Linked DNA regions of Homo sapiens. The protein of the gene in region 2 purifies or fractionates together with the protein of the main gene of each other region. This does not show direct contact. Each region holds a gene or a part of one and is shown on either strand. Other genes may lie near its edges.

Region 1 (2,345 bases), on a different chromosome or scaffold from region 2:
ACCTGCGCCGGCTCCAGCAGGCGGCTGTAGAGCGGGGACTGGCGCATGGCCTCCAGGTTCAGCAACATCACCCCGCTGTTGAAGCCCGGCAGCCCCTCGGGGGGCGGGCCCCCAACCCGGGTCTGGGGGTTCTCATGGCGGAACTGCCAGAATGTGTGCCTGTGGAGAGAGAGGACAGAGTTAGTCCGGTGTGCAGGGGAACCAGCCTGCCGGCCTGCTGCCCTGGGTCTTCACAGCCAGCCTGCATGCAAACACTGCCACATTCCGGGGTGCAGAATCCGCATCACTACACCAGCAAGTGGCAGAGCTGGGACCTGAACCCAGGGCTCTGGACCCCAAGCCTCAGATTCTTTCTACCATCCTCTGCTACGTCCTCACCACAGCCAACATTGATATTATTGACTGAGGATGTACCAGGCGCCATACTAGACCGGCTTACTTACTCCCCACACAACCCCAGGGGATGGGTGCTCTGAGATGATACATCATTTCACAGCCAAGAAAACGGACGCACAGAGAGGTCAAGGTATTTGCCCAAAGTCACACACCTAGTAAGCAGCAGACGCAGGGACTAAACCCAGACAATCTGGCTCCAAAGTCCACATTCTTAAGATAGCAGCAATCTAGGTAGAACTTTCCACCCCCTTGTCTTCACCTGTGATCTTGAAAAGGAGAAGGGAGAGAGAAGCAGGGGACACAATCCTGAACAGAGATCTCATCAAGACGCAGGCAGCTGAACCCTGACTGGAACAGAACTGTTTTCTGCTTTAGAACAAGGCTCATTCATTGAGCCCCAAGCCTGGCACTTCAGAAAGGCTGGGCAGGGGCTGGGGGCCTGCGACAGCCCAGGGCACACCATGGGTTAGGGTGAAAGACAGCTGTAGAAGAGCCATGTAGGATGATGTCTACTTTAGAAGGAATGTCACTTCAAGTTCAATTTTTCTCTCAGCAGATTTAGAAACCAATCTAGGTTCATAGTTCAGGGAGTGTTAGCCTCTTCTAGGTCCTCTACCCAAATGCTTCCATCTGGAGGGGAGAAGAAAGACCTAGACACCTCCCTGTGAGGGCCAGGGTTAAAGCGCTGCACTGTCCTCCAGCCTCTTTAATAGCTAAGCCTCATGTGTGCTGCAAGGGGTGTGCAGGTGGAGGGGAGAGGCGTCCAAGCCCACACCCACAGAGGAGGGGCCACAGCAATCGTGCCGGTGACCTGGAGGAAGGAGGACCATCAGGAGGCCCACTGTGGCAGGGACAGGCGTGGGAGTGGGTCCTCACGGGGAGGACACATCGTGGCAGAACCAGCTCTGCCTCCCAGCCTGGAGATGCTGCCCCACCGGCCCCCGCAGAGAGACTTCCCCACCCAAACCCAGGATAGGATCTGCGTGATGAAGCAGAAGGTACGGGGGAATAAAACCGGAGACCCTGCCCAGGGTGGCCCTGAGGGGCCACTTCTCAGCACCAGCACATTGCTCCGCTTCTGGGAACGGAGGAACCTTCCTCAAGGTCTCACGTATCACAGAGAGTGCCAAGAGTCTGATCCTGGCGAGGGGGAAGCATTCCCTCCGGACATTCTTACAGGGGAATCCACAGGGCCACTGCTTGTGTTCTGCTGTGAGTGGAACCGAGCTCTGGTGCCTGCCTGGTGGTAACAGCCTTGGCAAAAATAAGCTTCTCAAGCAAACTGAGATGCTGTCATCTTGCCACAAAAGTCTGCGGTGATAGGGTCACACAGGGTTGGGATGCAGTGTGGCAGCTGTGTGTTCATTTTACCCTATTTCTTCCCAGTGGTTCATTTCAGGACCAGGTTATAAAGCAGCTAAAATTCTACCAGGCAGACCAGGGCACCATGACATCAGAGAGGAGGGACCCTCTGACTAGGGGCAGTGGGTGCTTTACCACCAAGGAGCTCGATTTACCCTTCGAGGGGTGGGAACGAAGCGTTTACCGAGGTGGAGCAGAGACCCAAAGGGAGGGAGGGCACGAGAAGCAGGGAGGCAGGACCTGTGGCCGCCGAGGTCCTGGACTACCTCATGCTCCACGGAGCCCACGTGTCCATCTTTCTTTACTGTCCAGAGTACCCAGGAGGGAGAGGACTCACCCAGCTGGGGGTGTGGCCCGTGCAGTCTCTTGTGTCCACAGGACCTCACAGGGCACCAGCACAGCAGGGCCACAGGAAAGATCACAGGGCTGATGAGGAACGATGGAAAGGCAGGCGTGGGGTGGACCGTGCAGCTGTCGACACCGGGTGGAAGCAGGGGGCAGGACACTGAGGACACGATGCTGCACCTGCAGATTCACTGAGCCCTCAACCTCCCCACCAGATCTACTGTGGGGTTGAGTGAGGAGCA
Region 2 (3,285 bases):
TGGAGTTTTCAGACCTTGTAGGAAAACCAGAGAAAGGAGAGTGAAGGCAGGCAAGATTCAGGGAAGGCCAGGAGATAGGGGGTGATTTGCCTTACTGAGAGTTTTTGACTTCTAAAGCACCTGACCTGCCTCACACCTCTGGAGCCCGTGCTATGGTCTGAAGGCTTGTGGGCTTGTGTCCCTGCAAATTCCCATGTTGAAACCTGACCCCAAGGTGATGGTGTTAGGAGGTGGGGCCTTTGGAAAGTGATCAGATCATGAAGGTGGGGTCCTAATGGGAGCAGCATCCTTATAAAACAGGCCCAAGGGAGCTTCTTTACCTCCTTTTGCATCTTTTTTTCTTTTCCCTTTTTTTTTTTTTTTTTTTGAAATGGAGTCTCTCTCTGTTGCCCAGGCTGGAATGCAGTGGTGTGATCTCGGCTCACCGCAACCTCCACCTCCCAGGTTCAAATGATACTCCTACCTCAGCCTCCGGAGTAGCTGGGAGGCACTGGAGTAGCTTACAGGCACCCACCACCTCACCCGGCTAATTTTTTTGTTTGTTTTGTTTGAGACAGAGTCTCACTCTGTCGCCCAGGCTGGAGTGCAGTGGCGCGATCCTGGCTCACTGGAACCTCTGCCACCTGGGTTCAAGCGATTCTCCTGCCTCAGCCTCCCGAGTAGCTGGGATTACAGGCACCTGCCACTGTGCCAGGCTAATTTTTGTATTTTTAGTAGAGATGGGGTTTCACCATCTTGGCCAGGCGGGTCTTGAACTCCTGACCTCGTGTCCACCCGCCTCAGCCTCCCAAAGTGCTGGGATTACAGGCGTGAGCCACTGCACCTGGCCGAATTTTTGTATTTTTAATAGAAATGGGGTTCCACCATGTTGGCCAAGCTGATCTCGAACTCCTGACCTCAAGAGATTTGCTTGCCTCAGCCTCCCAAAGTGCTGGGATTACAGGCATGAGCCACAGCACCTGGCCTGACATCTTTTTTTTTTTTTTTTTTTTTTAGATACAAGGTCTTGTTCTGTTGCCCAGGCTGAAATGCAGTGGCTCCACCATAGTTCACTGCAGCCTTCACCTCCTAGGCTCTAGAGATGCTCCAGCCTCACCCTCTTGAGTAGCTGAGACTATAGGTGTGCACCATCATGCCCAGCTAATTTAAACTTTTTTTTGTAAAGATGGGGTCTTGCTATGTTGACCGGGCTGGTCTCGAACTCCTGGCCTCAAGCTATCCTCCCACCTTGGCCTCCCAAAGTGTTGGGATTACAGGCAAGAGCCACTGCTCCTGGCCACCTCCTTTCACCATGTGAAGTCACAGTGAGAAGGTGTCATTTATGAACAAGAAGCAGGCCTTCACCAGACGCCAAATCTGCTGGCACCTTGATCTTGGGCTTCCAGCCTCAGAACTGTGAGTTCTACATTTTTGTTGTTTATAAGCCACCATCTAGATCTTCACTGCACTCTTGGCAAAAATTCATTCCTTCATTGGCTTCATCTATTCTGGGTCATGGATTCCTTTTATGAAAGTCACAGACTGACATTTGCACTACACTCTGAAGCCTAACCAGGGGACCCCCAGAAATCCAGGGAGGTTGGGTTTAGAACCTTGCCTTACCCAGTAACTGTGTTTACTGTAGTCTCCCCTCTAGGACTATCTCAGTTGCGATTAAAAAATCAAAGGCTCACACAGTGTTCTCCTCCTTGGGTTCTAGCCTTTTAATCCGTTTTGAGGCTGGAGAATGGCGTGCTCTTCGTCTGCCCTCATTCTGGGAAACTGGAGGACACTTCTAAGGTAATGGCTTAGGTTCAAGAGGAAATAGACTGGCAGCTTTGTAAGAAGCCGTATGCTTGGCTGGGCACAGTGGCTCACACCTGTAATCCCAGCACTTTGGGAGGCTGAGGGGTGGGCAGATCGCGTGAGGCCAAGAGTTCGAGACCAGCCTGGTCTCAAACATGGTGAAACCCTCTCTCTACTAATTATCCAAAATGAGCCAGGCATGGTGGCAGACGCCTGTAATCCCAGCTACTCGGGAGGCTGAGGCATGAGAATTGCTTGAACCCAGGAGGCGAAGGTTGCAGTGAGCCGAGATTGCATCACCGCACTCCAGCCTGGGCGAATCGCACCACTGCACTCCAGCCTGGGCAACAGAGTGAGACTCTGTCTCAAAAATAAAAATAAAAAATAAAAAATAAGCCGTATGCTTCAACCGGCCAGTGGGGTCCGGTTGGAACACTGCCATGTGTGACCCTCAGTCGCCCTTTCCAACACAAGGGTCTGCAGAAACACTTGGCCCCCATCACTACCTTGATGTCCAGAAAAGAAGGGGCCACCGTGGCCATCTAATGATTTCAGAAGGGGTTGGGTCAGCCCAACAGCTCTCAGGAAGGCCCACCCAGGGGGAAGCAGAGTCCTGGAAGAGGAGCTGGGATGGGTGGTGGTCTCATCTGTCTTCAGTGACTCACTGTGACCACAATGACCCTGGGCCAGTTGGCATTCCCCTCTGATTTAATGTCCTTTAGCATAAAAATGAAATAGCTTTCCTTCCAGCAGCCAGAGTATTTTAATGTATTCTTTGAACCAGAAATAATGGTTCCAGGAAGTACGTTCACAGTAATAATTCAAATAAAGAGGCCACATGGAGGAGACAGAAGGACGGAGGACTTGGGGACAGACGACTGGTTGTGACTCTTATGTGCTGTGTGACTTTGGGCAAGTCACTCAGCCTCTCTGAGCCATACCCTCACCTGTAAAGAGGGGACATTAGCATACTGAACCTTCCAGGGCTGCTATGGGACTTCTATCCTTGTTACCAATAACTGAAGACCTACTGTGTCTTCCTACTCAGCTTTGTGCTAAATACACACTTAACAGGTATCACTTCACCCACTTTCCAGATGGGGTAACTAAGAAGTTAAATGACCTGCTAAAAAGTTACCATTTAGTGTTGCTGAGTCAGCCTGACTCCAAAGAACAGGCTGTTATAAAACTGGACATGATGATATAAATGCTAGTTGTTATACTATTAACAGAGGAATTAAAGTGATTGTGGAGTTTTCGATTTTTCTTTATTTATTATTATTTTTTTTGAGACAGAATCGTGCTCTGTCGCCCAGGCTGGAGTGCAGTGCCATGATCTCAGCTCACTGCAGCCTCTGCCTCTTGGGTTCAAGCAATTCTCCTGCCTCAGCCTCCCGAGTAGCTGGGATTACAAGTGTGCACTACCGTGCCCAGCTAATTTTTGTATTTTTAGTAGAGATGGGGCTTCACCATGTTGGCCAGGCTGGTCTCGAACTTCTA
Region 3 (3,657 bases), on a different chromosome or scaffold from region 2:
CTCGATCCTCAATCTCTCACTTTCATACACACGTACACAGAACACAGAGAACATTTTCAGTCCTCTACAATGTTGTTATCTCTAGAAAGGGGGAGTTTTTATATCAAGAGTCTTTGTTAGCCACACAATTAGGCAATTTTACAAATTACTTACTCCTGCTTGGTTATACCAATCAGAATGTGGTAGGTGAGATATGTTATGATAGAGACAGGTAAAAAAGGAAACATAAAAAAAGGATCTTTGGTAAACAAGTCTTTAGTAATGTTGAGCAGATACAGTAAGATAGCTCAGAAAATTCTAAAAGTATAATGAGGGTTGTTTTGAAAACCTCATTAGCATAATGATATTTAGAGCATTTCTGAATAGCAGAATTTTAAAAACACAAAGCACTTAGCTGCATTTTCTTTTCAATCTATATTTTTGTCAAACTAAAGCCTCTTCCAAATAGCAGCCTAACAAACTTCCAGGGACTAGTCAGATTCCTTACTGGTGCAGGTGTTTCATTGCACTAAATACTGTTTGAAATAAGTAGAGCATTCAGGCTTTAAAATCACTTTGTTGTACTAAGTCAACTGTAATAGCAATTTTGGAAATTCAATTTAGCTCATTCCAAGAGTTTCCAAACATTACTAAGAAGACTACTTTCAGAACAAAAATGTCATCAATTCCCATTCTAAAAAATGGAAATGAATAAAGAAAGGACTATTTGTATATATTAACGCCTTAGCTAAGCAGCCAATTTAAAGACACAAATTGTAAAACACAAATTATATATTTGATTTTTAAAAACAAAACAACAAAAAAAATCTGATGTCTATCTGCAATGAAGCAGAAGCCAAACATCATCAGCATGTTCTAATCTAGAATAATCTCACTAAACCTACCTCAGAATGAGTTTCAGATAGGTAGCCTCTGTGTTGGTAATTTTGGAAGAGAAATATATGCTCATAACACAAAAAGGTGACTAACACTAAGACAGTTAAATCTATACCTATAGAAGCTCAAGTGCATTCTTACTTCTGTTTTGTGATTTTTATTTGTAAACTCACTCAGTTCCACTGATGAAGACAAATTGCTTAGCCCCACTAAAACTGCGTATTAGCCCAGGAATCCTAACAAGTTGTCAGAATTTTCCTTTTTCTAAAACAGTATTTCTAAACCTAGAATGAGGGTATCTATTCAAGTGATTATTATTTTCAAGAAAATGAGTTAATACTTCCAGAAGGATGTAAAATATATTTCTCCTTAGAGAATGATAAAGCAGTCAGGTGCAGTAGCTAACATCTGTAATTCCAGCACTTTGGGAGGATCGCTTGAGCCTAGGAGTTTGAGACCAGCTGGGGCAACACAACAAGACCCCATCTCTATAAAAAATTAAAAATAGCCAAGGATGGTGGCACACACCTGTAGTCCTAGCTAAGCTACTTGGGCAGCTGAGGCAGGAGGATGGCTTGAACACAAGAGTTTGAGGTTACAGTGAGCTATGATTGTGTCACTGCACTCCAGCCTGGACGACAAAGCAAGATCCTGTCTCAAAAAAAAAAAAAAAAAAAAAGGCCAGGCATGGTGGCTCACACCTATAATCCTAGCACTTTGGGAGGCCAAAGCGGGCAGATTGCCTGAGCTCAGGAGTTCAAGACCAGCTGGGCAACACAGTGAAACCCCATCTCTACTAAAATACAAAAACTTAGCTGGGCGTGGCAGCATGCGCCTGTAGTCCCAGCTACTCGGGAGGCTGAGGCGGAGGCTGCACAGTAAGCCGAGATGGCACCACTGCACTCCAGCCTGGGCAACAGGGAGAGATTCCGTCTCCCAAAAAAAAAGATGCCTTGCCATCTCGGGTTGGGAGAGCTCTAAACTTAGGAAATAAGCAATCTGTATTTTGATAATTCCTAAATAAAAAATGAAACACTAACAATATAAAGAAAACTGTCTTGCTGTAAAAATCAAAACCACATCCTTTAGTTTTACAATTGGGTTTTCTGGCATAAACAATGACAACTTGCGAATACAAAGGAAAAACCTGGCCATTTTCTGTTTATTGACCTATTTTTGAAATGCAGAAACTTTGGCTGGGCGCAGTGACTCACACCTATAATCCCAGCACTTTGGGAGGCCAAGGCGGGCGGATTGCCTGAGTTCAGGAGTTCGAGACCAGCCTGGGCAACACAGTGAAACCTTATCTCTGCTAAAATACAAAAAATTTAGCTGGGTGTGGCGGCATGCGCCTGTAATCCCAGCTACTTGGGAGGCTGAGGCAGGCTAATCACTTGAACCTGGGAGGTAGAGGTTGCAGTGAGCTGAGATTGTGCCACTGCACTCCAGCCTGGTGATGGAGCGAGACTTTGTCTCAAAAAAAAAAAAAATTACAGAACCTTTATTTAAAAAGGTGTGTTTTGCTCATGCCTGTAATCTCAGCACTCTGGGAAGCCAAGGCAGGAGGACTGTTTGAGGCCAGGAGTTCAAGACTGGCCTGGTCAACATAATGAAACTCCTGTCTCTACACACACAACACACAAAAACACACACACACACACACACACACACTCTCTCTCTCAAATTAGCCAGATATGGTAGCAGGCACCTGTAGTCCCAGCTACTGAGGAGGCTGAGGTGAGAGGATCACTTGAGCCCGGAAGTTCAAGGCTACAGTGAGCTATAATCACGCCACATGCTCTAGCCCAGGTGACAGAGAGAGACCCGTCTCTAAAAATATATATATATAAATTAATAAAAAGCCTGTTTTTCATGGCCCAGATATTGAAGAGAAATAGAAAATAGCTCTAATCTCAAAAGGAAGAAAAAAATGTAAAATTCAGCTGAAAGTCTGCCTTGCCATCTTGGATTGGGTGACCTCTAATCTTAGGAAATAAAGATACTACTTCCTCATTAAAACCTCAAACTGCACCAATAGTCACAAAATTTACCACTTTTGTGAAAATGTTTTCACTTCATACTAATATTATGAAAGGAATGCCAATCAGTATGAATTTCCCATGCAGGTCAAACTGCAGATTTTTGGCTTATGTGCTGTATATTAGGGAAAAAATTAAACCAAGTATTTTTTATGTGGTAGATATCTTTACATACCATGTACACTCCAGATATATTACTAATTTCAAACATCTGAAGTTTCCCTGAAAATTCCATTTAGGCACTTAGCATCAAAGCAAAAGAAGGCTGGGGCGGTCAATCATCTGAAGATGGGTTTAACACCTTCCTCTTCGACCCACTTCAAAGCATGGATTTTTTTAAGGGGGGGAGGTGGAATCAGATTAGGAATTCAGCCTGACTTAAGCCACTGTTATAACAAAGGTCAAAGCATTCTAAGTTTTGAAATGCCGAATTAATCTCTAACTGAAGGAAAACATGTCAATTATCACCATGCAGACCCACCAGAACCTTATCTGAGACAGCTTGCTAAAGCTAAGGGGCTTTCAAATCACTCAGTTCAAACTCACACCTTCCTTATGTCTCTTCCTATAACAACCCTAACAGCAATTTAAACACTGACAGTGATAAGGACTTAAACAGTTCAAGCTAGGAAGGTCGATCTCCCTAAGCTGTAACTCAACTTCTAAGGCGTAGCTGTGCCTGATTACACCAGAGACTATACCTATTCCTTTCCTTCCATATAAAAATCCCACAGCGTATCTG

Evidence for each region.
Region 1: the proteins of ASPHD2 (region 2) and XXYLT1 purify together in Homo sapiens (co-immunoprecipitation; one large-scale study listed by IntAct). This does not show direct contact.
Region 3: the proteins of ASPHD2 (region 2) and METTL9 purify together in Homo sapiens (co-immunoprecipitation; one large-scale study listed by IntAct). This does not show direct contact.

Annotation. Positions count from the first base shown.
Region 1 is NC_000003.12:195,069,953-195,072,297, forward strand, and holds part of XXYLT1 (xyloside xylosyltransferase 1), read right to left. Parts: intron 160-2,345; coding exon 1-159. UniProt on the Homo sapiens protein: Alpha-1,3-xylosyltransferase, which elongates the O-linked xylose-glucose disaccharide attached to EGF-like repeats in the extracellular domain of target proteins by catalyzing the addition of the second xylose.
Region 2 is NC_000022.11:26,439,188-26,442,472, reverse strand, and holds part of ASPHD2 (aspartate beta-hydroxylase domain-containing protein 2), read right to left. Parts: intron 15-3,285; coding exon 1-14. UniProt on the Homo sapiens protein: May function as 2-oxoglutarate-dependent dioxygenase.
Region 3 is NC_000016.10:21,620,040-21,623,696, reverse strand, and holds part of METTL9 (protein-L-histidine N-pros-methyltransferase isoform 1 precursor), read right to left. Parts: intron 1-3,657. UniProt on the Homo sapiens protein: Protein-histidine N-methyltransferase that specifically catalyzes 1-methylhistidine (pros-methylhistidine) methylation of target proteins.